Regions from separate parts of the Homo sapiens genome. Here all the other regions are linked to region 1. The links come from fine-mapping of genetic effects on gene expression. A gene starts in region 1. Each other region holds a variant in brackets. All regions are shown on one strand. Distances are between the middles of the regions. Region 1 holds the start of DAB2IP (DAB2 interacting protein). Region 2 holds the start of LOC105376257 (a long non-coding RNA gene). Region 3 overlaps LOC107987016 (a long non-coding RNA gene). Region 4 overlaps DAB2IP (DAB2 interacting protein).

The links. PIP is the estimated chance that this variant, and not a neighbour inherited with it, causes the effect.
Region 2: its variant is fine-mapped to the expression of DAB2IP in whole blood (TOPMed, PIP 0.99).
Region 3: its variant is fine-mapped to the expression of DAB2IP in whole blood (TOPMed, PIP above 0.99).
Region 4: its variant is fine-mapped to the expression of DAB2IP in whole blood (INTERVAL, PIP above 0.99).

Annotation. Positions count from the first base shown.
Region 1 is chr9:121,647,466-121,655,565 of GRCh38, forward strand. It overlaps DAB2IP (DAB2 interacting protein), which reads left to right and starts at 4,169. Exons shown (of 16, transcript NM_001395010.1): 1 at 4,169-4,434. The coding sequence starts at 4,311. RefSeq lists enhancers at 1,911-2,746, 7,205-7,704.
Region 2 is chr9:121,733,446-121,741,545 of GRCh38, forward strand. The region is part of intron 3 of DAB2IP (DAB2 interacting protein); the gene reads left to right. It overlaps LOC105376257 (a long non-coding RNA gene), which reads right to left and starts at 3,605. Exons shown (of 3, transcript XR_930314.4): 1 at 3,388-3,605; 2 at 2,066-2,235; 3 at 1-34. RefSeq lists an enhancer at 4,424-5,200. The variant G/A (reference allele first, on the strand shown) is at 4,256.
Region 3 is chr9:121,555,676-121,563,775 of GRCh38, forward strand. All of the region lies in intron 1 of LOC107987016 (a long non-coding RNA gene), which reads right to left. Among named protein-coding and RNA genes, the nearest start is that of GGTA1, 60 kb to the left of the region's middle. RefSeq lists an enhancer at 2,355-2,649. The variant C/T (reference allele first, on the strand shown) is at 3,716.
Region 4 is chr9:121,710,588-121,718,687 of GRCh38, forward strand. All of the region lies in intron 3 of DAB2IP (DAB2 interacting protein), which reads left to right. Among named protein-coding and RNA genes, the nearest start is that of DAB2IP, 63 kb to the left of the region's middle. RefSeq lists an enhancer at 7,531-8,100. The variant G/A (reference allele first, on the strand shown) is at 4,116.

The DNA of each region.
Region 1 (8,100 bases):
GCCCCTGCTGACCCACCCTGGCCTGGCCCATGATGTACCTGGACTTTCAGCCCAGCTCTGATGCTACCCACTGCTTCTTTTCCAGCAGGGATGCTGATGGTTTTCTGCCTAGAGGGGAATTTTTTGGGTCCATCCCTCCCTGGTCTTCACAAGTAGCCTCCTGTGTCCCCATTATTCAAACTGACTAGTGGGGTATACCAGGAGCCAGGAGGGGGGTGTCTCTCCTTGGAGTCAGAGTAGACTTTTTTAAGGAGGGGGTGCTTCAATTTGCAATTGCAAAAATGTATATATACACACACATATATATACATAAACACACATATATACGTATATATACCCATATATACACATATATATACATACATATACATATATATTATATATATACATACATATACGTATTATATATATATACGGGTATATATGTATATATATGATGGAATACTACTCCGCCATACAAAGGAATGAATTAATGGCATTCCCAGAAACCTGGATGGGAATTGGAGAATATTATTCTAAGTGAAGTAACTCAGGAAAGGAAAACCAAACATCATATATTCTCACTCATAAGTGGGAGCTAAGCTATGAGGATGCAAAGGCAGAAAAATGACACAATGGACTTTGGGGACTCAGGGAACGGGTGGAAAGGGGGTGAAGGATAAAAGACTACAAATTGGGTTTAGTGTATCCCAAGTTACTGCTCGGGATATGGGTGCACCAAAATCTCACAAATCACCACTGAAGAACTTACTCATGTAACCAAATGCCAACTGTTCCCCAAAAACCTATGGAAATAAAAAATTTAAAAAATAAAAAACTGAGGGGATGCTTGAGCTGGGTCCTGAAGGGTAAGCAGGAATGCACCAGGTGGGTGCAGAGGGAAGACCTTGGTGGCAGCGGTCCAGGTCCCACCAACAGGGCGAAGACTGGTGGTGGGAAAGAGTGTCTGGAGGATGACCAAGGGGGCTGAAATGGGTTGGGGTGCAAGCGGGAGGTGGTCGCTTTTTGACACAGCTTGGTCTCTGAGAGTTCGCCTTGGGAGGCTTTTGAGGGGAGGGTAAAGGTGCTGGTGGTGGGGTTAGGTCAGATCTGATTTAGCCAGTCCTAGTACCCACACCCCTACTTACTAAACTTGCATGTTTCCAGGCCCCATCCAGACCCACTGAATTGAGCGTCTTGAGGGAAACTCAGAAATATGCCTGTTCACTGAGTGAAGGTGATTTGGGGGCTGCAGCCCTGTCCCCGCTAAAGCAGCACATGGGAGAGGTGGGAGCTGGGCCTATTCAGGAGCCCCTCTGGAGGTGGGAGAATAAGACCAGACCTTTAGCCCTGTAGGTACTGAGGCTCTCATGTTGGCAGGGCTGGAAAGTCCGATCTGTTGGTCTGTCACAGGAAGCAGTGGTAGCAATGGTGGTGGTGGGCACTGGAAGCAGGGCTTCTCCTGTTCAGAGAGAGAAAGCCACAGGGGCGCCGGCGGGAGGTGGGAGCAGATGGGGGGCCAGTTTCCCAGCAGGATTGATTCCAGGTCCCCTGCTGGGCTGTACAGGGAGCGGCCTTTAACTGCCCTGTTCCTGGGCCAGGAAGAAGGAAAAGGAGCCTGGGCTCTTTCTCTCCTAGCTCCTGCCCTGCCCCCTTCCCACTCAGTACCCGGAGAGTACCTGCCCCAGGCCCGTGGAGATGCTCGGCTCAGCTGGTTGGCGATGCCCATTCCCATCCCAAGGGTAGAAATGCACAAGCTTCCTCCATTTCACTAGCTGACCCTCCTTCCTCCACAAGGCAGATGGATTGGGGGTCCATACGTTCTCCCTATAGGTAGGGAAACTAAGGCACAGAGAAGGACTTGAAAAGCTGAAGTGGGGAGACCATGCCAGACCTTTGGAGCCCAGCTGTGCTTACAGATGAGGTCCTGAGTTCCAAGTTACTGCCCCCTCTCCCCTCCACACACACTCCTCAGACTTCCTGTTGGGGGCCCAGGCTAAGACCACTTGCCCACACCACTGATAACAGTGAGTTGATTGTGAGCCTCCCGTCCCCTCCAGGGAGGGCTGGAACCTGGCTGATCAGAGGGTTCCTGCTTTGGGAAACAAAATGGGCCAGATGAACTCAGGCCCTGGGAGCAGGACCGTTGCCCCCGTCCTGAGTAGGACTTCCTGGGAGTCCCTCACCCCCAGAACCCGTGGACCTGGCTACGGAGGTTAGTCATGCCTGGAAGTGCCAAGATGTGGACAGGTGGTGCTCAGAACCCCACCTACGTGAGGAGGCACTGAACTGGGTTCTGGCAGTTTGGCCAGAGGAGGATGCATGCTAACAAGGCCCCCAGCTTGCCTGGGGACTGAGTGACTGTGTGTGCGCTCTGTCCAGGGGCTTCTTTTTAGAGACGTTCCTGCACCATGTCTGCTGTTGAAAGGAGATAGGGCAATGCCTCCAAGCTTGTCTGACCTGCAGCCTACCGGCTGCATGTGGCCCAGGATGGCTTTGAATGCTGCCCAACACAAATTCATAAACTTTCTTAAAGCATGATGAGGTTTTTTTGTGTGTGTGGTTTTTTTGTTTGTTTGTTTGTTTTAGCTCATCAGCTATGGTTAGTGTGAGTATATTTTATGTGTGGCCTGACAATTCTTCTTCTTCCAGTGTGGCCCAGGGAAGCCAAAAGATTGGGCACCCCTGGCCTAACCCAAAGGAGGCTAAGGGTGTCCTCTTGGGCACCCTGGTTTTCCATCTTCCTGTGGGATTGGCCAGTATTCAGGGAAGAGGGGACCAGGGCAGCTGATAGCTCTGGACTCCTCAGACTGAGTTTGCTGGAGTAACACCCCTCCTGCCCCTCCCCCCTGGTCAGGGAAGGCGCCTGGCTTCCAGCTGTGAGACAGGCTCCGCAGGACTAGGGACCCTCCCCGCTGGCTGAGAGCGCTAGGGAGGGGGCTTCCCCTGTGAGGTGCAAAACCCGGCCTGGATTTCTGCCCAGACGGCCCCGCCCACTCCAGGGCCCCACCTTCCCCACTGTTCTGGAGGAAGATCCCCTAGCCGGCCTCAGGCACTTGCGGTGACTCACACCCCCCACCCCTAAGTCTGAATGTTGAGAGCCCCAGGCTAAGACCACTTGCCTCTGCCACTTTCCATGTGACTGAGGCAAGACCTCCTTGCCAAGGCCTCAGTTTCCCCCTCTGTACTTCAAAGGAGGCAGCTCAGGCAGGTGTCTTAATAATTTAAACGACGAATATTGCTAAAGAGATAAGGGGCGGGGAGAGAGAGAGATCACTGTGGGCCATGGTTAGGGAAGGGTGGAGGAGCTGGGTCCTGAAAGGGTGGACTTTGGTCGGGTGGAGAAAATAGCCAAGAAGGCAGTCCCTGCTGGCAGCACAGCAAAGAGAAGTGAGAATTAGGGGGAGCAGAGGTGAGGCTGGAGGGGACTTTGGTTGGGGCAAGATTATTTGGGGTCCAAATAACAAGGATGTTTAGACGTATTGCCATTGTGCTCTGGGGAGCCACGGAAAGCTCTTGAGCTGAGGAGTGACTTGGAGAAAGTTTTTCAGCCAATGCAATAGAGGGAGTTGGTACCTTTCCTTCTGCCACCCTGAGTTTCTGGTGCCTACGGTAGGGTAGGGATTGTTCTGCCCTGCCTTCAGTGCTTTGAGTGCTTGAAACAGACACCGTAATTTTAATTACATAAAAATGATACGTGTATCAGACGGGACAACCTTTAAAACGTAAAGAAGAGGCAAGTATCCTGCATCACAGGGGAGTCTTTCAACCTGGCTGGGCCAGGGCCTGCGGAGCAGTGAGGGTCGTTTCTCAGCCCAGCGAGCCTGGGGCAGGAACGGACCCTAATTGAAGGTGACCGTCCCCAAGCATGCGTCCTACCCCGGGCTCCGGAGAGCGCACAAGCAGGTGTGCACCGTCTACCCGCGCTGGCGGGATTGGGTGCCTGGTGCGCCCTCAGGTCGACGGTCGAACCCTCGGGGGCGGGGGTGGGAGCCAGAACCCTCGGGACGACCCGTCTGGGGTCCCGGGGAAACTCCGGGCCGCCTCGCCCCGCCGATTCCAGGCCGGGATTTCTCCCGCACTGACTTTCCGGGCCGGTGCCAGCCCGGCCTCCGGGTCCCCAGCCCCCGCCGCGGGGCCGGCTGCTCGGGGAGCGGGAGGGGGCAGGAGGCGGAGGAGGAGTTTGAGCGACTTTGTGGGGCAGCCAGGGCCTCGGCGGCCGCTCGGGCGAGCGCGGGAGAACGCGTGGGCGCCCGCCGGGCTGTCCGGAGCGGCCGATGGGGCCCGTGTGAGCGCGCCCAGGCCCGGCCCGGTGCCCGGCGGGCGGCAGCATGTCCGCGGGCGGCAGCGCCAGGAAGAGCACCGGGAGGTCCTCCTACTACTACCGGCTGCTGAGGCGGCCCCGGCTGCAGCGACAGAGGAGCCGCTCCCGCAGCCGGACCCGGCCTGCCAGGGGTAGGCGCCACCCCGACCCCTGACCCCTAGACCCTCCTAAGGCCACTAAGCCACCTGATGCCCTGGGATGCTAGGGACCGGGATCCTCCTTCCAGCCATTTGCCGGGGGTTTCCTCATCCGCCCCTTCCTGAGTCTGCCGGACCCCCCATTCCCCCAGCTTCTGCTTAGTCCTCCTCTCGCCGGGGGAAGCCGAGGCTCTAGGGTCTCCTCTTAAGCCAGGGACAGGGAGAGGGGAGCCTGGAATCTTTCTCCGCATCTCAGATCAGACCTCCTACCCCACTGTGCCTCAGTTTACTCAGCAGCCGGGCAATAAAGTAACCCAGGGTGGATCTGAGCTTTCCCACACCTTGCCTTCCCAGCCCAGGCCGCGGACTTCTTTCTTCCCTTTCCAGGAACTTAACGGGCTCCCCACCTCTTGGGTGCTAGGACAAGTGGGTGGACCTCAGGGAAGGAACCGTGACCCCTCGAGCGGGTGGGCGCCAGCTCCTTTGCAAAGTTTCTCTCCATCAAGCTCAGGAGGCAGGACGAGACGGAGGGGGAGGTGCGAGCAGCATTTTCTTTTTCCAGTAACAGGATCCTCGGCTGGAAATGCGTGTGATCCCGGGGGCTGCGTTTGGGCGGGTGGTGGCCGGGACTTCCTTCCCTGGCTGAGTAGGAGGGAGGGAAGCCCCTGGGAGGAGGAGGCCTTCAAAGGGGCTCTGGGGAGGCTGGAGTCCTAGGCAGAGGTTCAGGCCCACCGAGGGTGCCCGTGGGGTGGAAGGGAGGAGAAAGACGGCGCCTTAGCAGGGACCTGGGCCGAGTTGACACCATCAGGTTATCTTGAAAGTGGGAAGCCGGGCCCTGTGCCAACAAATGCCATGCAGGGAATCTGGTAGACCAAGAGGGGCCACATTCCCACCCTGCAGGCTGCCGTTGTGTGACCTGGGCTGAGCTGCCTCTGAACTTCAGTTTTCTTGTCGGTGTGAGGGTAAATGAAGCAGGCAGGTAGTGTTCGGTTGCTTCCACCAGAATGGGGAAGACTTTTCCCACAGTCAGGTCTGAGTAGCACTGTGCAGTCCAGGGCTTCCTCAGGAAGTAGTGAGTTCCCTGTGCACAGAAGGGTTCAAGCTGAGGCTAAGTGTGTGCACAGGTGTGTGCTGGTAGTTCAGTCCTCAAGGGTCTCTCAAAGCCTGCAATCCCCCCACTCCTGCCTTTCCTGAAGTCTTAGTAAGTACAGAATTAACAGTACTAAGTTACTTAGTAAGTACAGAATTAACAGTACTAAGCCTTTAGTACTCCTTGGAGGGAGTACTAAGCCTTTAGTACTCCTTGGAGGGAGTACTAAGCCTTTAGTACTCCTTGGAGGGAGTACTAAGCCTTTAGTACTCCTTGGAGGGAGTACTAAAGACCTGGGGAAGGCTTTATCTCAGTGGTTCAGGTTTTGGTTCTTCTATCTCTGTCCTTCTATTTAATTCTGTACTTGCTAAGACCTGGAGAAAGGCTTAGTACTGTTAATTCTGTACTTACTCCCTTCCCCTGGACTTGGTCTGGGAGACCGGGAATCTGGGCTCAAGCTTTGTGACTTTGGGCAAGTCATTTCCCCTTTCTGAGCTTAGTTTTCCTGGTTGTAAAATGGACCTGCCGTATGTGGAGGATTCAGTGAAGAAACTGAGAAATGGGAGCTTTGAAAATGCCCAGTACTGTTCAGACCACCCTGGGGCCTCTCCTTCTGCACCCACCTCACGTCACCTCACCCACCCGCCCCTCCTTTGCCTCAGAAATGCCCTGTGTGACCTTTTCCTCTTCTCACCTCAGCCCAGTTCCATCCCTGACTGTAATGGGAGTCTCGCTCCTGTTCAGCTGACCTCCTGCTCAGCTGACCAGGCAGGGGATAATCAATGTGTCAGGGGCTGTCACCTGAGCCCCAGCTCCCAGACCCCACATACACAGGATCACTGCTTGTGTCCCAGCTTGAAGGAGCTCACGGCCTGCAGAGCGGGGAGGAGACTGTCTCTGAACAGAAGTTATATCTGGGGAGATCAGGGAGAGCTTCACAGAGGAGGTGACATTTGGATGGGATCTCACAAAATGGATAGGGTTTCCCTTCGCAGAGGGAGTAATTGAGTCAGATCTGGGTTCAAGTCTCAGCTGTGCACACAACTATTCTACAGCCAGTTACCTCTCCAAGCCTCAGTGACCTTGTGTGGTCAATGGGGCTAGCAGTGACAGGGTCATGTGAGGGCCAGAAGCCAGTGCCTGGGACTAAGGCTGCAGCTGAGGGTGAGCTACTGTCTTCTCTCTGGACAGAATGAACAGACTGCGCAGTCAGGGAGAAGGAAAACGGCTTGGGTATTGAGAATAGAGTTCCTCCTGGGTTTGGGGAGGGGAGTGGATTGGGAAGGGGGCTGGGTGAGTGGGTGGGGAAGAGCAGGCAACAGTAGTTTGGATTTGATAAAGGGCCTTGAACTTTGGGAGGCCAAGGCAGGAGGAATCCTTGAGCCCAGGAGTTCAAGACCAGCCTGGGCAACATAGCAAGACCCTGTCTCAATATTGTTTTTGTTTGTTTGTTTGTTTGTTTTTTTAAAAAAAGAAGGCCTGGAGTGATGAGGAGTTAGTTACAGCTGCAGCCAGGGTGTAGGGTGGAGGCTGGAGGCACCCTGTCCTCCTCCTCCTTGGTGGGAGGCAGCTAGGGCAGCCATTGCCCTCCCTCCACTAAAGCCTCAGACGCCTGACTCTACCCCAGAGCCACAACCACCACCTGAGGGCAGGGCCCCACCCAGGGAGAAACTCAGGCTGAGGAAGCCACCCTGTGGCCTTTGAGCCAGTCCCTTCTGACCTTGAACTTCAGCCTCCCCATCCACATGGGGGCTTGGTCCCATGGTGTGGTAGCATCGGACCTCAGAGGAGTGGGTGGTGCCTAGCATCTCAGCCTGGATCAGACTCTTGCCCCCACACCCTTTCTGGCCTCTGGCACTAGCAGGGAAGGAAAATGACCAAGAACTCAGGCTGTGTATTTGTTCAGAAACAGAAAAATGCAAGGAAGAGTTGGTTGCTGCCAGGTTCTGCAGGTGGCCAGGCTGGGGGAAGGGAGCAGGGCTTTGTCCCTGGTAGGGCTGTGAGTGAGGGACAGTATCTGCAGTCTCCCTAGTTTGACCAATAAGGGACTTAGGTTCTTCCCTTTTCTGGGCTTCAGTTTCCCCATCTGAAGGATGGGCAGAGTGAGACCTGCTGTGGTGGGGGGTAGAGCACGAAGCTGGAGGGTAGCTGGAGGTGGGGTAGAAACAGTGACCTTCGGAGGGTGAGGGCCATTTGCATTTTCCCACTGTGTCCCTAACTCCACTTGAAGGCTGGGCATGTCCCATGGATTTGGGGGGATCCTTTCCCCAGAAGGGTATCATCAGCAAGGTGCCTCCCCACCTAGTCACACCAAAATCAAGAAAAGTTTTGTCTCTGACCCCTGTGTTTCCCCAGGGCTGCTAGGAGAAACAGAAATTTTCCTCTAGCCCTGGATAAAGTTCTGACCCATTCATTCAGCCAGTCAGCTCCTCTTAAGCACCTACTATGTGCTGGGCTTCAGCTTGGGTGCAGGGGCACATGGAGATGAATCACATGTGCTCCCAGCCCTTGCCAAGCCCCCAGTCTGTTGGGGAGGCCAGCTTGTTGGGGTGCACTAGGGCACAAGTCTC
Region 2 (8,100 bases), 86 kb after region 1:
GAGCCTAGCCCAGTTGCTGAGGACATCTTCAGATCTGAAAGAAGATAAGACAGGAGCATCCTGAGCTCTGGGGAGAAGACGGCCTGCAGTGTGTGTTTCTCCATCACTCACGTATGGAATCCCTTAGGCCCTGAGAACCAGAGATGAACAGACCCCAAGGAAGGCCTGGCAGGGCAGGCAGCAGTAGCCAGGAGAAGGGAGTCAGACCAGGAATTCAGGCAGAGAAAGGGAGAGATTGTGCACTTTCCTGTGCCCGGGGCCACTGGGAAGGCTTCCCTCAGGTGGGGGCAGTTGAGCTGGGCCTTGAAAGGTGAATGAAAATTAGAAATGGGGGCAGGAGGGGAGCCTCGTGGAAGCAAGTGTGTGACTGTGAGAAAGGCGGGGCATGCACTGGGAAGAGTAAAAAAGGAGGCGGGCTTTGTGACTGTTCCCTGTGATAAGCTCCAGGTATAAAGGTGAGGAGTGTGCAGGGACAGGTAGGACCTACTGATGGGCGAGGCCCAAGGCTCTGGACTTGTTCTGTGGCCACAGGAGATGCTGAAACCAGGAGTGACTGGATCAGGGCAGCTTCTGAAATTCCCCCAGCTACACGTGGCCAAGAATGGTCACTGTGTACTCTGTACTTTTATGTGTTACTAAAGATGTTGCTGGGCCGGGCGCGGTGGCTCACGCCTGTAATCCCAGCACTTTGGGAGGCCGAGGCGGGTGGATCACGAGGTCAGGAGATCGAGACCATCCTGGCTAACAAGGTGAAACCCCGTCTCTACTAAAAATACAAAAAATTAGCCGGGCGCGGTGGCGGGCGCCTGTAGTCCCAGCTACTCGGGAGGCTGAGGCAGGAGAATGGCGTGAACCCAGGAAGCGGAGCTTGCAGTGAGCCGAGATTGCGCCATTGCAGTCCGCAGTCCGGCCTGGGCAACAGAGCGAGACTCCGTCTCAAAAAAAAAAAAAAAAAAGATGTTGCTGAAAGGAGCCTGCAAGCGGTTATGCAGACTTCTGAGCAGGGGCTAGGAAGGAGGGCACAGAGGAAGCAACAGCAGACAGCTGGTGAGGGTGGGAGACCCACTGGAGATGGACATATTCTGACCCTCAGATGCAGGCTCATTTCTTGTTAGCTCGTGACTCCTTACTATGAGAGCTGTCATGCAAAGGAAAAGGCCCTGTTATGGGGCCCTGTTTTCTTATAACAAGATATTATAACAGTGGGGATGACTCAACAAGGGGATGCTTCTTGCCTGAGGGAAATCTAGGAAGGCTTCCAGGAGGAAGGACTATTCAGATTGAGGAGGGAAATGAGGGGGCTAGTAAAAGGTGCAAAAACAGTTGTCTAGGGGTGAGGCACACTTTCAGATGTAGTTGGGTCAACTTGAGCAAATGACTTAGCTATTCCAGACTTGATTTCATCTATAAAGTGGTCACAGTATCTGCCTTGCCTGTTTGTTGCCATGATCATGAAATCAGTGGGAGCAGACCTGGCTTGGAGCCTGCACCCTGGAGGGAGGTGGTGCTCAGAGGATGCACTCTGCTTTCGCCTTCCTTGTTGGTTTGGCTGCTCTGGAGCCAAAGGGGGCTTCTCTGGCCCCAGGACCTCTCTGAGACTCTATCTTCACCTCTCCCCTGCTAGGAAATTTTATTAAGACATTGGATAAACAGATGACAGCTCTGAGGGAAAACTTCTCAGAAGGAAGGGGACAGGACACTAAGTGCTCTTCTGGCTGGGAGCCTTTTAGGCAGTAGGGGGAGCTGGGTAGCTCTTGGGGCTTTGGTGGTGTGGACTGATGCAAATGTGGGCAGACGGGGTGGTGTTGGATCGCCTGGCCTGTGTGCACGGCAGAGCTGAGCCTGGAGCCTAGGGCCCAGCAGGGGATGGAATGAGTCAGGGACTTTCCAGGTTGGGGGCTGCTGCTGGGGACACAGTAAAACCTCTTCACCAGTCCTGCAATAACCCCAGACAGTATCCTGCCTGCCTGTACACAGTAGGTGCCTGACACAGTCTGCAGCTTAGTAGGAGCTCAGTAGTTGTTTGCTAAAACAGTGGCGCAGGCTGCAACTGCCAAGGACTGACCTGGGGTCTGTGATGCCTTAGGGTGGAGGATGCGAGGAGCTGGGCAGGACCTAGGTGGGACTCCAGGGTGTGGCTCTTGTTCTCCCACTGGCTTCTGTTCATATTTACATCGGGAGGCTGTGCAGCCTCGGGTTCCTGGCCTCAGCTGGATTAGCACCTCTTGCTGGTGGCTGTAAGGGAAGGAGGTGTGACGGTATGATACCCTGCATGTGGTAGAGACTCAGTAAGTGGATACCATTGCGGTGGCTTCTCTGGTGGGATGGGAAAAAGGGTGACCCCAGGCAAAAATACCTGGTTGGCTGGGTGTGCCTTTCCCCTAGGGGTTTTTGTTTCCGTGTTTAAATGACCCAAGGATGAATCTCCAGGCCAGCAGGTGGGGCAGGGGTTTGTCTGCCCCCAGGCTTCTGGGCGCAATCGGGAACCTGGGCAGCTCACACAGCTCACCAGCCTGTCTCCTCCTTCCCTGCACCCGACCTTTCCCTTCTGTCCTGCCGGACTAGCCGGGTGCTTTCCAGAAGAGAAAACCCGGGACTGCTGCCTGGGAACCCAGTGCCCTTCTCAGCTTAGGCTGTCTAGACCCAAGTCGGGGTGGGGAGTCGGGTTAGGGGATCATGGTAGACAAACCCCTGGCCTTGTCTGGACCTCAGTTGTGTTCACTTGTTAAAATGTTGGAATGGAAATGTGGGGAAGGGAGAGCGTTTGCCTTGGTTGGGTCTCTGGGCTGCGCTGGTCTAAGCCCGACGAACCCGGGGTGGGGCCAGCGGGCCAAACTGGAATGCGCCGCGAGAGCCGGGCCGCGGGCAAGTGAGGGGCTGGCGGGGCCGGTGGGGACCCAGACTCGCACGAAGGTGGGGAAGGAGTTGCAAGGCAGAGACCCCCGAACCCCTGCTCCAGGGCCTGCGCGTCCCGCCCGCCCGGCGTGCCGAAGCGCAGCGGCGGGTCGCTAGCGGGAAGTGGCTGCAGCTGGAGGCAGCTGGCCGCGGAATGTCACCCGCTGCCGGGCCTGGGAAGGGCTGGGCCTACTGCTGTGGGGTGGGGGGCGGGTGGGAGGGCCCGGAGGGCTGGGGCTGGGGCGGGCCGCTTCCGGGCTGGAGAGGGTTTGGGGCGTGGCGCAGCCCGACGTTAGTCCGGAATGCTCTGGGAGCAGCGCTCGGGGGAGGTTACCTTGGCGCGCCCCCAAATCTTTTGGTTCCCCCGCTCCTGCCTTCCACTGCTCTGGCTGACCTGGCTCAGACCAGCTTGAAAAATGCATTCATTCATTCAGTACATCTGTCGAGTGTCTACTCTGTGCCAGGCTCTGGTTCGAGGTGTGCTGGGCTTACCGGGGCGTGCAGGTCCCTGTTCTCGTGGACCGGACATTTTCATGATAGGTAAAAGACAGAAACAAACAAGATGACTTCAGGGTAGTTCTGTGGAGAAAATGAAGCAGGGTGATAACTTGGGAGGTGGGAGTTGCCCCTTTAGCTAGAGAGATCAGGGAAGGCCTCTTCCTGGGACGGGACTTTGGGTCTGAGACCGGAATGAGGAGGAACCAGCCTTGCCCACGGAATGGCAAATACAAAGGCCCAGAGGCGGGGCTTGGGGCAGGATATGACCTTGGGCGGAGTCAGTATGTTAGGGGAGGAGCCTGTAGGGACGGCTCCTCCCTCTTTCTTGACCCAGACCTCTGTGCTCTGGCCTGCACCCTGCCCAGAGGCCCCAGAGGGCGACTTGCCATGGCTGGAAGCGATAGTTTGCTTTCAGGAGTGTTTCTCGTCTTCTTGGACCTGGAGGTTGTGCCATGTGGTTACCTGCATGGAAGACGGTAATTTTCCACTTGTTTCCTGAAGGACACGGAAACCTTTAGATGTTGTCATCACTGTGTTTATTTAAGTCATTTTTGAAATTTCAGCTTGGAAGACACAGATTCAGCACGTGCCTTTCGGGAAGGGGAAGCCCTCCTAGGCTCACCTCTTAGATGCCGGCCCGGCCGAGAGGCCCCCTAATCTGTCCAGAAGAGCTGCCTGGGTGAGCACCACCCTTGGGAATGGGCCTCTGTGGCCTTGGACTTCTTAGTGACAACTTCGGCAAGATCCTGGGCCGGGCCGGAGGGGCTGCTCACTGGAGACCTGGCCATCTTCGGAAGCCAGATCTGGCTCCAGAGCCTCGGGGGTTGCAAGTGCCCAGAACCAGGTCAGCAGAGAGGCCTGC[G/A]CTCCCACCACAAAGGTCTGTTTGAAGTCCTGTGGGAGGGAGGACAGACACCACAAGGAAACTTCCTCCCCGGTGGGTGGGTCTCCAGCCAGGTATGGGGTCAGACAGGCTTTGGTCGGGCTGGAGGGTGAGGAGCTGTTTCTCCAATGAGGCCTGGTCCCAGGACTGAGTCCTCAGTGGGCAGGGCTTGTTGGTGTGCTGTGAAAGTGCAAGGCTTGGGGGACTGAATGGGGGACTCCCTTGGACATGGGAGGAAGAGTGAAGGTGGGGGCTGGGGTTGCTAAACTGGTTCCTCCTCCAGGGAAGCAAGCCCTGCCCTCCTGGAGCTTCCAACCTGGAGGTGGGGAGGTGGGCTGGGGGGAAGCTTTAGGGCACAGCTCAGAGAAGGCCAAGCAGGCAAGGTTGTGGGGCACCTGGAAGGTGGGTGTCCAGCGGCCTGGCTGCTGACCTAGGCTCAGGGAACCAGCATTTGGTGGGTGAGCTGTGAGGAACGGGCCTTGACCCTAGGCTGCAGGGCTAATGAGGGCCTTTAGCCAGAGGCTCCCAGCACAGGTGAGGGGGAAACTGCCGGTGCCCCTGTGCCCTCGCGCTCTCCCAGCCCTGCCTCTCTGAGACAGATTTAATAATCCATGTCTGTCTCTCTCTCTCTCAGTTAGTATTGCAGGAGGGAAGCTTTACTTCTAAAACTTTTATTGATCCAGACACTAATAAAAGTAAAGGGTTTTTTTTTCTTCTTTCCTGCTAGAGCAAAGAACATCAGACATCAGAGCCCTAAAACACAAATGTGTTTTCCTCCTCCCTAGATCTGGGAGGGAGTTGTGGGTTGGCCTTGTTCAGATCTAGCCTCTTCAAGAAGCCTCCCTAACTTCTCAGGCCTGCAGTCATCCACCTGTTCCAGAGCAGTTAAACGAAACTGCCACATGTGCCTCTGTCTGACCCCAGAAGGCTGGGCTGTCACAGAAGCTTTCCTTCCCACCTGAGGTCCCCAGGGTTAGGGAGAGACGCCATGGGAGGCATTCAAGACCTGGCTCTTGATTTCTTGTGTCTCTCAGGGTTTGGGGTTTGGTTCTTTGGCTGCTCTGGTCTTTGTTTTTGCATCTTGATTTCATCAGGACTTACTGAGCTCTTATACTGTGTCAGACCCTCTCTTAAGACACAGAAATACAACACGTAGAGCTTGGCCACACACAGCTTACCTTGTGATGGGAGAGGCAGATAAGAAATAAGCAGAGAAACAAAGTGATTCTGCTTTGGGAAACATAGTGAAGTTCCCCTACTGAAATGTGAGTCAGGGAATTTCTGTCTGCTTTGTTCAGCACCTGTGTTCCCAGTGCCTAAATAGTGCTTGGCACATAGTTTGCACTTAAATATTTGCTAGCTGCATGAGCAAGATGCTATGAAGGAAACAAGCCAAGTGTTCCACTAGGGAGTAATGGGGGCAGGGCAGGACCTGTTGTAGATGGAGCAGTCAGGGAAGGATTGAGTTGCAGAAGATGCCAGAAGCCTGCCAGTTTGCTGTTAGAGTGTGCTGGAGCAAGAACTCCTAGCCTAGGGAGCAGCAAGTACAAAGTCCTTGAGCAGGAAACAGAGACTTTGGTGTGTGTGGTGGGGGGCGTTGGGTGTTGCTGGATGAGGTCAGAGAGTAGGTAGGTCATGACTGCCAATGTCTTTCACCTGGGTAGCAGTTCAGATTTATTCAGTGCAGTGGGGAGTAATTGAAGGCTTTTAAGGTGAGGAGTTCAGTAATCTGATTTGCATTTCTGAAGGGTCCCTCTGACTCCCCTGGTAGGGGTAAGGGGAAGCCCAGTGGTTGGGGAGGCTGCCCGGACAGCAGGCTGCCTGGGGAAGATGGAGAGGAGTAAACAGGTATGAGGGATTTCAGAGGGGGTAGCAGCAGGATTTGTGTTGGATTGGATTCCAAAGGCCAGGGAAAGGAAGGGCTCCTGGCTTTGCTACTGAGGCTCCACGCTGGACATTTCAGACGTGAAGCTCCGAGAGGTGTCCCAGAGGCGCTGTCAGGCAAGCATGGAGACACATGGGTCCGGAGCTCAGAGGAGGATAGGGCTGGGGATGCACTTAGGAGTCGTGAGCATGCTGGAGGTATTTAGAGCTATGGGAGTGGAAAGAATCACCAAAGGAAAGTGTTGTGCTAAGGAAGTGTCTCCGAAACAGCCCTGAGGAGCTCCAGCACTGGGAGGAAAGGAGGTGAGGTGCTAGCAGCCTGTGAGAACAGAGGAAAGCTGGAGCAGGGTGGCCTGGGTTCACGGGGTAGTAAGGCACAGAAACTGGTTGACTTTGGCAACATGAAGGCCTTTGGTGTCCTCAAGGAGACCCAGTGGGGTCGGAACAGACAGGTGTGTTGAGTAGGAAAAGGAGGTGAGAAGGTGGCGGGGACAGCAGTGAGCAAAGAAGTGCGTGAGGACCCAGCTGGCCCAGGATGTTGAGGAGGGGAGGGCCAGGGAGGGGCCTGAATGTTCTCTGTCCACAGCGTAGGTTTACCAGCAGCAGCTGACCCAGTGGATCTCAGCCTGGAGATTCTGATTCAGGAGCGCCGATAGGCCCCCCACAGTGATCTTTCCCAGCTCTCTGAGCCCTCTCCACCCACTCTCTGGAAGGCTTGCTCACTGTGCCCTGTCACGTTTTTGGACTGAATGCTGAGTCTGTTGACCCTGTGTTCCCCCCGTCAGCCCCTTTCCTTACACCAGTCTCTCTGGGTCCACGGCCCCTAAATAAGAGTATCCTGGAGCCTGGCTTACCTCAAGTGTCTTTCCCAGAGCAGAGCTAGACTTCCTTTACACCAAGGGTATTTCTCTGGAAGGCTCCTTTATGTGTTTGGCTTCTGGAGAAGTTTGAGATGTTTTACACAATATTTTGGTGGCCAGGAGCTCTAACCCTCACCCCCAACAACCCTGCCCCAAGACTTTTTGCTGGCTCTGGGGAGGGTTCAGAATGCATCGGCTTGAGGGTGCAGGGTTGGCATACACAGCTGGAGATAACATAATGTCTGCTAGACGCCTGGTGGGTTTCAGTGTCTGTTGAATGAATGGCACTCAGATATTTGAGTTTGGGGTTCCCAGTTGCTTTGTTAAATGCTTTTCCTGGTTAACCAGTGTTTTTACATCTGTTATCTGCAGGGGATAGTGTATTACCTCATTTTATACATGAGGAAACTGAGACTCAGGAAAGTAAAAGGATTTGTCCAGGGTTCCACAGTTGCTAAATGACACGACCAGAATTGGAGCCTGGGCCTGCAAAACCCCCAAATTGGGCCTCTTCTTACTGACTAATCCTGGGGGTGAGGTAGTAAGGGTGGAGGTTAAGGCACCCAGGTCTCCTACTACCTCTCAAGAATAGTGGCCAGATGTTCTGCCAGGGCTCCAAGGCATTCCTTCTGCCTCCCACCCACCTGTTTCCTCTGATGCTCGACACCCCCTCCTCTCCCCACATGCGCACCAGATGCATTCGGCTCCAGGAAGATAGGATGAGGCAAGCCTTGAACCTTGTCAAACCTTGGGGATGCTTGCGGCAAAGCCTGTAGCTTTTGGGGAGGCTGTTTCTGCAACAGGCGTGTAGGGTGGCCCTATGGCTGATGCAGAACTCCCCATAGGTAAGGTGAGCTCAGCCGGATCACATGCCATGACCACACGTGAGCATGGAAGACAAACCCAGAGAGGTCTGGAGGCAGGGCCCCTCCCGGAGAGGCAAAGCCACTTATGCTGCCTCCTGACAGCCTGTGTGGCTTTAGGCTCTCGCTTCCCTCCTGCTCTGCCCCTCCTACTCACCCAGCAGACTTGCTTAGTCTGGGCTTGGGTAGCCGAGACAGGTTGTTTTCAGGCCTCAAAGGA
Region 3 (8,100 bases), 92 kb before region 1:
ACAGGGTCTCATTATGTGGCCCAGGTTGGCTTTTTTTTTTTTTTTTTTTAAGAGACAGAGTCACCCAGGCCTTAGAAGACAGTGGCACAATCATAGCTCACTGTAACCTCAAACTCCTGGGCTCAAGGGATCCTCCTGTACACACCACACCTGAGGCTAACTTTTTTATTTTTTGTACAGATGGGGTCTCACTATTTGCCTAGGCTGGTATTATTATTATTATTTGGAGATGGAGTCTCACTCTGTAACCCAGGCTAGAGTGCAATGGTGTGATCTCGGCTCACTGCAATCTCCGCCTCCCAGGTTCAAGAGATTCTCCTGCCTCAGCCTTCCAAGTAGCTGGGACTACAGGCACACATCACCACACCCGGCTAATTTTTGTATCTAGGCTGGTCTTGAACTCCTGGCCTCAAGCAATCTACCTACCTCAGCTTCCCAAAGCTCTGGGGTTACAGGCATGAACATACACACAGGGCCTGTTTTCACATTTTTAAATGGTTGGGGGGAAAAAATCAAAATAATACTGTACTGTTTTATGACACAAGAAAATGACAGGAAATTCAAATTTCAGTGTCAACAAATAAAGTTTTATTGGTACACAGCCATGCTCATTCATTGACATATTGTCTATGGCTGCTTTTAAGCTACAGTGGCCAGTTGAGCAGTCGCATCCGTGACTACATGGCCTGGAGCACCTAAAATACCACCTGGCCCTTTACAGAATAAGTTTGCCAACCCCGACATATAATATATTGCTTGGGGCCAAACAGTAGCTCTGTGGCCTGTCTGGCTTTTTTCTCTTGTGTCCACCTATCCTAAATGCCCTCTCTGTCACTGGGAAATTAGCTACCCTAAAGGATCCTTTCAAACCCTCCCCTCCACCAGGTAGGCTCACTTTGCTGATCCAGCCCCCTCCTGGCTGATGCCTCGGGTATCCCTCCCCACCCTCCCAATCCCCGTCTGAGTGGAGAGCCTCACGGGCAGTGACTGACTGATTCATCTCTGTGTCTCCAGCACTTGGCATAGTCCCTGGTGAAAGTTTGCTGAATTGCATAAACTGCTGTCATTGCCGGGTTGGTGAAATGCTTCCAAGCTTCTTGAGGTTTATCCTGACTGGCCACAAAACCTGAAAACTAGCCAAGAAGCATGGGGAAGGGTGGCTGGGGAGGAGGGTCAGGTGGAATGCAGAGAGCTGAGCTCATGTGGGGAGTTCTGATGACTTCAGGGGCTTCCCCGGGGCAGAATCACTCCCTGTGAGCACAGAGAATAAAACTAGGATGAGAGATTAGTTACTGAGTACAATGGATGTTGTTCGCCTGATGGATACCCCGTAAGTATCCCTGACTTGACCACTACACAATCTATGCATGTAACAAAATTGCACATGTACCTCATACATTTGTACAAATGGAAACAAAAAAGAAAAGCTAGGGGGTGTGGTGGCTCACGCCTGTAATCCCAGCACTTTGGGAAGCTGAGGCAGGTGGATCACTTGATGTCAGGAGTTCAAGACCAGCCTGGCCAACATGGTGAAACCCCGTCTCTACTAAAAATACAAAAATGAGCCAGGCGTGGTGGTGTATGCCTATAGTCCCAGATACTCAGGAGGCTGAGGCAGGAGAATCGCTTGAACCCAGGAGGTGGATGTTGAAGTGAGCCGAGGTTGTGCCACTGCACTCCAGCCTGGGCAACAGAGCAAGACTCTGTCTCAAAAAAAAAAAAAAAAAAAGGAAAAAGAAAAGAAAAAGAAAAGCTAGGACCAGGATTGCCTGGAGGTAGGGAGTTCCCCATTTGAGGAGGTAAGCAAGCGGAGTTTAGATCAAGGATGTCAGGAGATTGCTGCCCTGTTGGAGGGTTTACTGGTTGAGATCTCCAGTTGCTTCCAACACAGAGCTCAGGAAGCCTGGGGTTCTCTTGGATGATGGCCAGGCCCTTGTGCCTCACCAAGGCCAAGCTCTGGGGGCTGGGAAAGGGGACAGAGGGCCCTATTCCTGCCAGCTGCTGAAGATCCCACTCCATCCACACAAGCCTGTGTCTCATCCCTGCCTTGACCTCCTACAATTGTGTGCCTGCTACGGGAATCCAGGGAACAGCTTCCTGGAACACGAGGCAGAGCCGTGGGACCCAGCAGCCAACACATCTCAAGTCCAGCCCCACAGTTCATCATGAAACTGATGATTTCCAGGAACTTTGAGGACCCTAGACCATCATCTCCGTCCACTCAGCCCTGGAAATCCCCCAACTCCAGGCATTTATTTATAGCTTGCCTTCTTTCCTGGAAAGGTTTGAGGTTGTTTAATAATTCCACCTCACATTTGTGCAGCACTAGGAGGAGGCCACAGGGCATTGTGGTTGAGAGTCTGGGCCCTGGAATCAGCTGTGTGTTGGGGGAGGGAGTGCCAAGTTATTTAACTTCCCCAGCCGCACCACAGCGGAGGACTCAAATTTCTAACCCAGCCCCAAAGCGTGGTGCCTGTCACATCCTCCCTCTGTGCGGCTGATTAGCCACTTCCTCCTCTGAGCCTGGGTTTCCTTGGGACAGTTGGGATTCCCTGAGAGGACGTGGGAACTCACGAGGACCCTAGGCAAGCACACACATGGGGCAGCTGGCTGTCTGTGGCCCCTGCTTGCCCTGGGGAGCCGATGACAGGGCCGCCGGCAATGCACCCTCGTCCCCTGGGGCTGGCTCAGAATTCCTAAGGCGGTGCCAACCCTTGGTTCAAGGCCTTTAGATGAGTCAAGAAAGCCTCTGTACAACAAACCCCTGTGACATGAGTTTACCCATATAACAAATCTGCGCCTAAAATAAAAGTTTGCAAAAATAATAATAAAGCAGAGACCACCGCCTCCCTAAATGCGGGGGCTGGAGAAGGACAGTTGTGGGAGGGGCCCGGGATGTAAGGTGAGACCACCAGGGAGCAGACCAAAGCCTGGCTCAGACATTCCCTCTTTGAAGGCCCCTTCCCACCTCCACACCTCCCTGCCACCCCCACCCAGACATACTTCTGCCCTCCTTGGCTAAGAGGCACTGGGTGTTTACTTGGGGCGAATAATGACTTCCTGTCAGGCGGACTCAAGCCCCAGCTCTGCTGCTTCTCAGCCCCTTGAACGCCTCTCAGCTTTCCTATCTGTGAAATGGGGCTCAGAAAACCTTTTTAGAAGGTTGATATATGAGGTGCATGGAGAGTACCAGGCCTCTCTGAGTACAAGACCCTCTGGTCTCCCTCCTCCCATTCTGGCCCCCGGGTACCAGCCCTGAATGAGAAGTGGGGAGGACCCAGTCCAACCAGAAAAGCATTAAGATGCAGGGAGAGCCAGGCGCGGTGGCTCACGCCTGTAATCCCAGCACTTGGGAGGCCGAGGTGGGTGGATCACTTGAGGTCAGGAGTTTGAGACCAGCTTGGCCAACATGGTGAAACCTTGGCTCTACTGAAAACACAAAAATTAGCTGGGTATGGTGGCCTGCACCTGTAATCCCAGTTACTTGGGAGGCCGAGGCAGGAGAATCGCTTGAACCTGGGAGGTGAAGGTTGCAGTGAGCCGAGACTGTGCCACTGCACTCCAGCCTGGGTGACAGAGAAGGAACCCAGTACCTCAATAAGGGCTCCTGGATGGAGTGCATACAAGGCGAGAGGGAGTGGGGAAAAAAAAATAACAACTCAGCCAACGCTTAGTCATTCCACAGATACTTTTTTTTTTTCTTTTGAGCCAGGGT[C/T]TTGCTCTGTCACCCAGGCGGAAGTGCAATGGTGCAGTCATGGCTCACTGCAGCCTCAACACCCCAGGCTCAAGTGATCCTCCCACCTCAGCTTCCTGAGTAGCTGGATCTACAGGCGTGTACCACCAAGCCCGGCACATTTTTGTATTTTTTGTAGAGATGGGGTTTTGCCATATTGCCCAGGCTGGTCTTGAACTCCTGGGCTCAAGCGATCCACCTGCCTCAGCCTCCCAACGTGTTAGGGTTACAGGCATGAGCCACCACACCCGGCCAAATATTTTATTCAGTACATGTTTATTGGGGGCCCACTGTGCTGGGCACAGTTCTAGGTGCTGGGATACAGACTGGAGCTTCCATGAAAGTAGGGGCTGGAGAATGATACACAAATAAATATATAAATAATGTCAGGTGGGATCCGAAGGGCCAGGAAGAAAACTAAAGCCGGGACAGGGGCAGACAGAGCCATGGGAGAGGCAGGGATGCAGGGGTCATGATATCTTAGAGAGGGTAATCAGGGGAGCCTCTAAAGGAGGCAGCATATGGCCAGGACCTGAACACGGGGGAGGGGGCTCTCATCCCAAGCAGAAGAAATAGAGGGACCTGTAATCCCAGCATTTTGGGAGGTGGAGTTGAGCAGATCATCTGAGGTCAGGAGTTCCAGACCAGCCTGGCTAAAATGGTGAAACCCGTCTCTACTAAAAATATGAAAATTAGCCAGGCATGGCGGCACACACCTGTAATCCCAGCTACTCAGGAAGCTGAGGCAGGAGAATCACTTGAACTTGGGAGGCAGACGTTGCAGTGAGCTGAGGTCGGGCCACTGCACTCCAGCCTGGGTGACAGAGTAACACTCCATCTCAAAAAAAAAAAAAGAATAAGAAAAAAAGAAGAAATAGGGAAGCCCTGAGGTGAGATGCACCTGGCAGTGCAAAGAAAAACTGGGAGGCCCATGTGGTTGGGGGAGGGGGGAGAGGAAGAGGGAGAAAGGAAAAGGAGAGAAGGGAAAGGAGGAGAGAGGGAGGGAGACAAGGAGAGAGGGGAAAGAGATGGGAGGAGGGGGAGATGAGCTGGTGGGCAGATTTTGCAGGGCCTGGCAGGCTGTGCTATGGGCTATGGATTTTAGATTCACTGAGCACCTCCTCTGGTCCAACTTCTATTTTTTTTTTTTTTTTTTTTTTTTTTTGCGATGTAGTTTTGCTCTTGTTGGCCAGGCTGGAGTGCAATGGTGCGATCTCAGCTCACCGCAACCTCTGCCTCCCGGATTCAAGTGATTCTCCTGCCTCAGTCTCCTGAGTAGCTGGGATTACAGGCACCCGCCACCATGTCCGGCTAATTTTGTATTTTTAGTAGAGACAGGATTTCTCCACGTTGGTCGGGCTGGTCTCGAACTCCCGACCTCAGGTGATCCGCCACCTCGGCCTCCCAAAGTGCTGGGATTATAGGCATAAGCCACCTCTCCTGGCCCCAAGTTCCATTTTAAGTTCTACCTGAATTAACTCATTAGTTCTCCTAATGGCTCTCCAGGCATGGCCTATTTTTATCCTCGATTACAGATGAGGAAACAGAGGCACTAAGGAGTGAAATCACTTGCCCAGGGTCATCCAGCTGGAAAATGGGGAGCTGGGATTTGGACCCAGGCAGGCTGATATCAGATCCTGAGCTCCAAATCACTAAGCTCTGCTACCTGTCCTTGGGGTGAGAAACCCAGTCGGGAGGCACCGGAGCCAGAGCCGACGCCGGATTCCAGCCCACGTGGGTCTGGCTAAATGGCTAGGGTCCGTGTCCTGCAGACGAGTGGTGCTGGGTTGAGGAAAGTGCCCCCGCCTTAGGTCAGTCTCCACCCTGGCTCCGAATCTCAGGAAGAGTAAGACATTCTGAGCCCTCTATGGGTTCCATTTGGCCTTCAATAGCAGGATGTAGCTAGAAAATCAGTGGCTTACTCATTGGCTTACATCTGTAATCCCAGCACTCTGGGCAGATCCCTTGAGGCCAGGAGTTTGAGACCAGCCTGGCCAACATGGTGAGACCCCATCTCTACAAAAAATACAAAATTAGCCAGGTACAGATGCGTGTGCCTCTAATTCCAGCTACTTGGTAGGCTGAAGAATGAGAATTGCTGGAGCCTGGGAGGCGAAGCTTGCAGTGAGCTGAGATTGCGCCACTGCACTCCAGCCTAGGGCACAGAGCAACACTCTGTCTCAACAAAACAAAACAAAACAAAAATCAGAACTCACAGCAGGAAAATAACCTGAAAGCAAACACAGCCAGGCTGTCACACATTTGCATGCCTTGATACACAGTAGTGCCACATGCCCGTCCTCCTCCAGTCTGCCTGATGAACTCCTCTTCATCCCTCATAGTCCAACTGGGCTGGCCCCACCTCTGCAAAGGCTTTCTGGATCCGGCTGAGCAGATCACTCCTCTCTCATGCTGCTCCTTTACCCTAGACCTGTCTTCTTACAGCTTTTAGGCCCCTGGGTTTTGGTTTCAATTATTCCTTTGTGTTTGGCTCCCCCATCTCCACCCAGCCCAGGCCTTGGCAGGGGCAGAGGGGGTGAGTGGGGCAGATGCCACATCTTGCTGTGCCACCCTCACTGGCCACATCCTCCCCAACAGGGCAGCCAATGAACAAGCTGGCCACCAGGTGCTGCTGTCTCTCCCTGATGCCCACTGAAGGACCCTGGTCCACCCACTCCCTCCTGCTGACATCCCTCCACGCAGCCAGACTCGGGGGGCCAGCTGCCACCAGTGACTCCTCAGCTCCTTCCTTTACATGGAGTGACAGGTCATGTCTGGAACCTGGGAATTCCTGCTGCTGCTGGAACAGGATCATGCAGTGGGCTGGTGGGAGCTATGGCTCCCAGAGCTATGCCCTCTGTCCCCACCACTCCACTGAGCTCTGATCCCGCAGCCAGTAGTGACCTGCCGGACATCGCCACATGTCTGTCTACATTTCTCAAACTTATCGTCACCACAGCAGAGTTCCCTCTGCCCAGCCCTACCCCTCTCTACACAGCCTCTCCCAGCTCCATGGACCAATCCACTTGCTCAGGCCAAGAGCCTCAGAGTCTGCCTGGACATGTTTCTTTTCTCTTCCTCCACATCTGTCAGGCTGTGCGTGAGGTCCCCACATATATCTTTTTTTTCTTTTTCAAGACTGAGTCTCACTCTGTCACCCAAGCTGGAGTGCAATGATGTAATCTCAGCTCACTGCAACTTCCGCTTCCTGGGTTCAAGTGATTCTCCTGCCTCAGCCTCCCGAGTAGCTGGTATTGCAGATGCCCAGCATCACACCCAGCTAATTTTTGTATTTTCAGTAGAGACGAGGGTTCAACATGTTGGCCAGGCTGGTCTTGAACTCCTGACCTCACGTGATCCGCCTACCTCGGCCTCCCAAAGTGCTGGGATTACAAGTGTGAGCCACCGTGCCCGGCCCCCACATGTATCCTGAATCTGTTTACTTTTCCCCACCTTTGCTACCAACACCCTGGTTGAGGTCTTTCTCCTTAGGGACCACAGCAGTGACCCACTGGCTTCCTGCATCCTCTTTGGCCACTCCTCCGGCCACCTTCCCCTTGTAGCCAGGGAACCTCTCATGTCACTCTCCTGCTTCAACCTGCAATGGCTCCCACATCCCCTGGCCCACAAGGTCCTTGGAGAGGTGGCCTCTGTGACCTTCCCCTCTTCTCCTGGACTACTCTTCCAGCGGTTCCCAGCCCTGGCCATGCTGGCCATCGTTCCTACCCTCCTGCTCAGCCAGCTCACTCTCACCCCGGCTTTGCAGCAGCTCTGCCCACTCCTGGATGCTCGGCCCCTGAACTCTGCATGGCTGGCTTCTGTTTGCCTGGCAGGTTGCTGCTTGGATATCACCTGCTCTGTTGTGCAGCCCCCATGTAATTCTCTGAATAGCACTCCTTTCTACCAGACAGCGTGCGTGTCTCCCCCCAGCTAGGGTGGAAATTCAAAGGAGCAGGGACACCCACCATCCCAGGCCTTCTACAGGGCCGGGCACAAAATCAGACTCAACAACAGCTGGTGGAATGAATAAAAGAACAGAGGGGGCTTGCACGCGCTTTGCCGCCACACTGGGAATTTTGCAAACACAGGCGCCTTTTGACCCAGCAAGTTGATGTCTAGGGTTTTCTCCTAAGGAGATCAGTAGACAGATGCCCACAGAAGTACAGTCAAGATAGTCCTTGCAGCGTTGCTTGTCATCATGACTACTGGCAGCAACCTAGGTGTCCATCAATAGGGGATTGGCTCAAAGCAGGTGTGACACAGCCAAAGGGTGGAATGTTACGCAGCCACTAAATAGATGGGTCTCTTATCATAAAGGGAGGGAAGCAGAGCCTAGTGCCCGATGTTCAATACGATTAATCCCTGGA
Region 4 (8,100 bases), 63 kb after region 1:
TGAGGTGGGGCAGGTACAAGAAGGGGTCGTGGCTAGGCTAAGTGGCCTTCCATAGCACTTCCCTTCCTCCAAGGTCAGAAGAACATAGAGGTGACTTCCATCACTACCCAGGAGGGTGAAGGCAAACAGGGTGATGATGATGGTGGCCAGGGACTCCCCCACCAGCCTCTGCTCAGGATCTGTGGGAAGATGGGTGAAGCTGGCGCTGAAATCCCCAGCCACCCCAGGCAGTACTACAGCAGACTCACCAAGGGAGTTGCCTATTGTGCTGCAGGCCACACTGCCCTGGTGTCACCACCTTCTGTGGACTGGATGTGACGTAGGGAAGTGGTAGTGCCAGGGCCAGATGTTCTGCCCGGAGCCCATCCAGCCTGCCTGAGGTGGTCTTGCTCAGTTGCCCTAGGATCATAAAGTCCACGAATTTGATGGTTGTTTATGAGGATAGTGAAAACCTATTCCAGAGAGTTTCAGAATTAAGGAAAAATGGAGCTGGCAGAGAACTTAGTCTTAGAGTCTGTACAAGCCAGGGGTGCACTTGAAAGGCCTTGTTGTCTTTCGTACCTCTGCTGCTTATTGTTCAGAGCACCCATAGGAGTGTTTTCCCGAACTGGGTTCCATGGAACACATTCTTAAAGATGTTAATGGGCGTTTGCGATGAGAGAATTCCATAGTCCAAACAGGACTGGGGAGCAGTCTGTCCAGAGTTTCTCAAACTCAGTGTCAGAGGTTCTTGGAGGTGAGACTTGATGTTTTACTCCAGTGGGGTGATTGTGTGCTCAAATACATTTTACATCCTCAAATTTTGCTTCCTCATTCTTGGGAAATCATTTGTGACCCAGGAGATGAAAGGCCCTGAGAGGTCCTGCAATGAAGAAGTCAGTTTTGCTTTGTTTAATCCAGGGTTTCCTGTCCCCCAACCCCAGGAGCAGCTGTTAACATCTGTGGAGCAGTTGTATTTTGCAGAACATTATTTGGTAAACATTCTTTTGAGGTGTTATGTCTCCTCAGAAGCATGTTTTGGAGGAAACTCTGGAAGTGTTCCCTGCCCTTAGTACCTGCAGGAGTAAGCCTTGAATGATGGCATTGCTGGCTCAGCAACAGGTAGTGGGTCATATGTATTTGAAAAAAGTCATCCTAGGTCCTCAATATCATTCCTCAAAGCAGCTACCAGCTCTCCTGTGTGTGGGATGGGGCCTGGCTCTGGTCAGAGAGCCCTCTGTGGGGAGGTGGTTTGTCTGGGACCAGCCTAGGCCTAGGGTGTAGGGGTTTATTCCCCTTTTTGCAGGCTGGGTGGCGTCCATGTACCTGGCAGCTTGGGCTCTGGGCCTCCCCATCCCCCTCTAGACTCCCTCTGCAGAAGGCAGTGGTCAGGCAGAGGCTGCCCACAGATTTGCATAATTGCACCGTCTCCTGAATAATTAATAAAGCTCTGTCCTTGCTGGGAGCAAAGTCTGCACCGTTATGGATGGGTTTGCCATGGATAGGTTTGCCGGAGCTCTTCCAGGGGAGCCGATGGTTCCTGGACTCCTCTGCTTTTCCTGGCATGGAGCCCCCAGAGAGAGGAGAGGGCACTGGGTTGGGGGCTGGCTCTGGTGTGTCCACATGGCTCCCATAGCATGATAAAGGGCAGGTGAGGGGTAGTGTGTGCTTTCTTCCAGGATCCACACATGGGTTTTCTAGCACACAGATGGTTTAGGATTCTTATTCTTCTTGCTTTCTGTGGTCCCACTAACCCTTTTTCTCTGAAGTGTGATCAGCTGTTGTGGGGCTTAGCCCTCTTTTCTGGCAGCCCAAAGGGAGCAATGCTTATGCAGCAGGTAAGAGCAATGAGGGCCAGTTTTCAGACAAGTAGGGGAGGGGGAGGTGTTTCTGCTTGGGGCCCTTCTTCAATCCCTCCCAGTTTCTGGGCTTGTTAAAGTTGGAGGTAGCCTGGGAGTGATTCCTATTTGAGATTTCTAAATCCCTTTTGATGGTGTTTCATTGACGTGAATTTTCCCTCTGACGCATGGCCTTGTCTCCCTTTCATGCTAGAAAGGAGAGTAAGGGGTGGGCCTGCCCCCAACATGTGGTTGACATTGGGGAAAGTCCTAGAGTCTCGCCACGCCATGAGTACTCTTGAAAGGCCTTGCTCCAAACCTTCTGTAGGAGTATTTCTTAAATGGGTTCTACTGAACATATTCTTACAGATGTTAATGGGTACTTGGGATGAGGGAATTCCACAGTCCAAACAGGTCCAGTGAACCAAGTCAGTCAGTTTCTTTAATGCATGGCTCCTTAGAGGCTTTAATGTGCCAGCGTGTGTCTGAGCCCCTGGGAGGGCGTACAGGATGCTCTGCTTCCCATCCACACCGGCACTCCAGAGTGTTGGCACATCTCCAGCAATGGGGAGCTCTTTCCACCTGGAGCGGCCCCTGCCCTTGGAGGACAGTGCCAACTCTTGTAAACTTCCCCCTTTGTGGAGCTTCCCCAGGCAGCATTTATGTGGCACCTTGTCATTCCCCACATGGCCCTCACACCAGCTAGGAAGGTGGCAGGGCAGGGATTATTCCATTTTATAGATAAGGTAACTGAGGCCCAGAGCGGGTAATTGTCTCACCCAGGGGCACATAGAGTTGATATTTAAACCCACGTCTGCCAGCTGGGCCTTCAGCTCTTTCCTCTTGGCCACCAAGAAACCATTTGCTCCCTGGATAGATGTCAGTATGTTGGCTGGGGTGGGGCCTTAGGACCTGTTGCTCTGACAGTGCCCTTCCCAGCTTGCTTGGAGTGTCTAGAGGGTGGAGGCAGGAGTGAGTGAAAGCCTTCCTTCAGGGTTTCCAAGCTGTGGGGCCTGGCTTTGGAGCCATTTGTAGACAGGGGCCTAAAACCGCCAGATGCCTGCTTATCACACCATTCCCGACTCTCACCCTTTTCCTTCTCCTGCCCTCTTGTTGTAGGGTGGGAATGTTTGAGGTGCCCCAGAAACTGGGTATGCACTCAACTTTGGCCAGTAGTGGTGGTGCAGGGGTGAAGGAGCAGGGCAGGGGGTTCCAGCTGGCTTGTCTTTCTCCAGGCCTTCCTGAGAGTTACTGGACAAGCTTGGTGGATGGCCAGGGGAGCCTGGGGTGAATTTGTTCACAGCAGCTGGGCTTAGAGGCTGCACCGGGGCTGAGATGTGACTTCAGGACTCAGGCCAACTGTTTTATATCTCAAAAATCTTGGGTTATACCATACACCATGAAAGGTACTGCATTGCCACACCTGACACTTCCATTCTGGTCCCAAAGCAAGCCACACGGGGGCTCTCTGATGAACAGAATCCTGCTCTGCTGACACATGGACCCAGATCCAGATCCGACGCCCTGACTTCCTCCATGATCTGGGACAAGTCACCTAATCTCTGAACCTCTGTCTCCTCATTTTTAAATGGGCACCATGATTGTGGTGCCTACCTCCCAGGGTTTTGAGGTCTACATGGGATCATGTTACATGGTAATTTGATCATATTCTGTCATCACACACATGTACTCACATTCTCACACACCATGCTTTTGCTTTTTTGTTTGAGATCCCACAACCTGCCAGCACATCCAACCCAGTCTTCCCAGGGTCCACCTCATCATATATATAGCAAGAGATGGCCCAAGACACATGAAGTGATGTTTGTGCTGACATTTCTCCCACTTAGAAAATCAATATTCTGTGGTCTGCCTAATTGCTCTGTTGCTGCTAAATGAGTCATTATGGAGGGAAAATAGCAAATGCATTGTGAGATTAATGGGAGAAAATGGTTGGCAAATGACTTTGGTTTGCTTCGGAAACTCTGAGAAGGTGTTACTACGTGAAATCTGCAGAGCCATGCAAGGCCGAGTCCTGAGCAGCAGGGAGACAGGCAGGCAGCTATTGGCGCTGTGAGCCTCCCTTTTAGGGCGGGGCACCGATTCAAATATTATAGAGGCTGGACTCAGGAGTTACTGAGTGATGAAGTCAGGAGCCAACAATGGGACAGGTGCTCTGACAACCTGGTCTCAAAGAAGAGGATACTCTTCAGTTAGAGCCAGTTACATGCCAGGCATGGTGCTAAGCTGAGGGATGTAATGGTGAGCAAAACCAGCCCCAGCTCCTCCCCTAGTGGA[G/A]GACACAGGCTGAAGTGCAATTGTCCTACAGGTGACTGTGTAATTGCAATTAAGGCATGTGTCCTGAAGGCAGTGAGAGCCCAGATCTGAAGGGTTTCATCTGGTGGGGGTGGTGGGGAGGGCCTCCCCGATGACAAAAGGAGTAAGCTGAGCTCTCAGGGAAGAACCTTCTGGGCAGTGGGAGAACTCGTGCAGTCCTGTTGGGTCTTATAGGAGGGGCTGCCACGGGACTTGTATGGCCTTAACCCTCCAGCCATCCTAAGAAGTGGATATTTCTCGTTTCACAAGCGAGGAAACCAGGACTGAAGGTGGTTAAGAGACTTGCCAGAGGTCATAGAACCCTTAAATGGCAGAGTCCAGATTTGAACATGGGGAACCCATGCCAAGGGGCATGCCCCGTTGCTCCAGGGAGCTGGCCTTGGCACTTGCTGCCCTGAGGGTGTCTCTTTAGCTAGGGTTAAGGACCTTGCTCCTGCAGGGCAGGGGGCTTCATGGTGGTTGCCTGAGAGTCTTTAGAGAGAGGGTTATAGGACTCTAGAAAGGGGGAACCCTCAACAGCCACAGCCAGGCCTCTTTGCTTTCTTGGGTCTTTGCTTCCTTTTAATGACAGCGTGACTTGGGTAGTTTTCTTTTTCTTTTTCTTTCTTTCTTTTTTTTTTTTTTGAGACAGAGTCTTTCTCGGTAGCCCAGGCTGGAGTGGAGTGCAGTGGCAGGATCTCGGCTCACTGCAAGCTCCGCCTCCCAGGTTCACACCATTCTTCTGCCTCAGCCTCCCGAGTAGCTGGGACTACAGGCACCTACCACCACACCCGGCTAATTTTTTTGTATTTTTAGTACAGACAGGGTTTCACTGTGTTAGCCAGGATGGTGTCGATCTCCTGACCTCGTGATCTGCCTGCCTCGGCCTCCCAAAGTGCTGGGATTACAGGCCTGAGCCACTGCACCCGGCCATGACTTGGGTAGTTTTCTGATGATCAAAATGCCAGGTCAACTAGTGACTCCTCTTTCAAAAGGCTCTGTAAATAACACACTTCTCTCCCCATGAAATGGGTTGGTTTATTCCCTGCCTCTAATCCCAGCTGGACTGTCATCAGGTAGGGCCTATCAGTTGTCTGCAGAGGTGGGTGGAGGTATGGTCACCTGAAGGTGCTTCTAAGGAAGGTGCTTGTGAGTTCTTGTAAACTTCCCAAGGTTTCAGGAGTGGCAGCAGCAGATAAGGAGAGTCCAGGCATTTCCTGTGGGCATTATGAAGGAGCACCAGAGGCATCCCACTTTGTCTTGGTGCCTGGTTGTAGCTGAGCATCATAGTGCCATGAGAACCTGGTAAAAAGATTCTGGAGCCCCACCCTGGGAGGGTCAGGGTCACAGGTCTAAGGGGGGCTCTGGAATCTGTATTCCTGACAAGCCCCAGGTGATTCTGAGACCCACTCAAGTGTTGAGATCCCCAGTTAGCAGCTCTGGATTCTTCCGTCTCTGAGAGGGTCACAGGCCTCCAAGGGATGGTGGTAGTGGAGTATACTTTTATCTTCCTGGGCTGGATGTAACACTGCCTGCTGCCAGCTCAGGAAGCCAGGCCACACTGTGCCCATAGGGCCACATGTAAGGCAGAGCCTGGTGCTCAGCTGAACCCCAGGTGAGGCAGGAACTTGGCCTGGGATGCTTTGCTACTGCTATTGTCCGGAAACTGAGTTTCATCCCAAACTTAGGTCTGACTGGCTGTGCCCTGTCCCTTGCGAAATATAAACTGCAGCCCTTCCTGGCGAGAGGCTAAGTGTTTATGTGGGCTGGTTGCAGAGCCCAGCTCTTTGTCCTGCTCAGGTTCCATTTCCAAAATAATTCTGCTTAGTTCTTCACATAAACAGCAGGGCCCTTAGAGACTGGCCCTGAGAGTATAGAGGGGATCCATCCCCGTCCCAGCACCCCAGTGTGCTGCCAGGAGACACCAGTGGGCATCCTGGGGTTGGTACCCAGTGTTCTGCTTTCTGCTCTTGCTCCTGCCTCCTTGGAGGCCAGGAGCCACATGCCTGAGGCCCAGGAATGTGATGGGGAAACAAGTTTCCCAGATTGGCCAAAGACCAAGATGGGAGCCATTGCACCAAGGTAGGCGTGGTAATTCAGTGCCACACGTTTCCCATGGTCAACCCTGCAGTCACTCTTCCCGCTAAGTCAAAGTGTCCACTTTGCTGTTGTCAGGTTATTTGGTGAATTTCTGTAGCCTCTAATGATGAGTAGTGAGTGGGAACTCTGTCTCCTTTGCTCCTAGCATCTACCAGGAAGACTGTTTCAGCGAAGGCAAGTCTCATACGGAGCTGGGCCTTGTGCACGCATGTGTCATAGCAAGCACTCATGAAGATGGGCCGGGGTCTCTTGTGAGCCTGGGGCAGCCCCGGGGGAATCTTGCCCTCAGAGAAGCACTTTTCACCATAGATTCACCCCTAGGTGATGCTATGCAGTCCTCATGGTAGGAATTACCAACTTCCACATCGGCTCAGGGGCCAGGATCTTCTAAGTGGTGGGACTTCGGGTCAAGCAGAATTCTGGACTCTGAGTGGCTTCCTAAGAGTTGGCCTGCTGCTTAGCCTGAATCTCAGGGCAGGTACAGACAGGATGGCGGTGCCCACAAGCCCTTTTTATCCAGCTAGCTAAAAGCCACTCATTGTACTAGCAGAAGCACGTTTCTACACATGAGAGGAAACACTGCATCCTTTTCGGTGCAGTTTTACAGAAAACTATTTAACGCGCTTGCTGTAGCTACCCCTGGCATGTGGATCCTGAGAATCCGCCCCTGGGCAGATTCACTCGGGTCACACACTTGTTTATCACACGGTGTGTAATTGACCTTAGTATGTGTGCATATGGACAGCATACCACGTAGCAGTGCCCTGGGCATTCTGACCTGCCCCTCCTGGCGTGTTTACTCCTCTCTACCCATAGTTCTGGCTGCCGTGCCTCACCCTGCCATGTGGCAACCACATGCCGGGCACTGAGAGGAGGCCCGGGTGAGAGTCTGGTCAGGGTCCTGCCTTCCTGGGAGCATTCTCCTTTGAGCACCACCTCCCTCTTCTTTCTCTCTTCCCCTCCCCCTCCAGTCCTGGACTTCCTGCTGTTCCTGGTCCAGGGGGAGGGCAGGTACCACACAGTGATGGGTGTCCTGCAAGCTGAGCCTGGGTTGTTGAAACTCCTGGCCCAGAAGCCTCTAGCCCCCAGCCAAGGTCCCTGTTTGGGCCGCGTTATGACAGTCTTGTTTCCGGCATGTCAGGTGTGACCATGCCTTCTGTCTCGATGGCTTTCCTTGCTGGTGGTCTCCCTGTGGGGCTGCTGTCCTTATGTGTCGAGGTTTCAGAATGGCCAGGCTCTTGGTGGGGAGGCCCTGGATGGACATGCTGGTGGCCCAGGAGAGAGCGACCCATCCTCAGTCCCTCTGCCTGTGAAGGCAGACTCTCCTGCCTGCCCTGGCAACAGCTCTGCGCCAGCCTGTCTGTGTGGCTGCCGGCAGCCGCGGCTCCTGACTGGCTGCCTTCTCCCAGCTCCCTCACGCCCTCCAAGGCTCACTCACTCACTCACTGGCTGCTCGCAGCAGCTCAGGCAGCGTTCAGGCAGATGGTGCAAGGGAGGCGTGGGCGGGGGTCCTCGGACTCTGCTTGCACACCCCCATGTGTGGGTGAGGTCACGCCCAAGGGATGTCATCAACATACGCTGGGATGGGCTTGGTGCCATTCAAGATCTATCTGCAGGGACAACAAAACCCGACTTCGAGGTCTTAACAAGTCCCTCGGGAGTCTCCAGACTCGAGTCCTTACACTGCATCACCCACTCCCCTGAGCCACCAGGCCCTGGTCTCCTCTCTTGACCCACAGGACACTGCAGGCAAATGCTGGGTTGAAATTCCAGCTCTGCCGCTTGTCAGCTGTGACTTTAGAGAACTTAGCTAACTCTGCAAAATGGGGGATAGTATCAGTTCATGGCATTGTCAAGAGGAATGAAT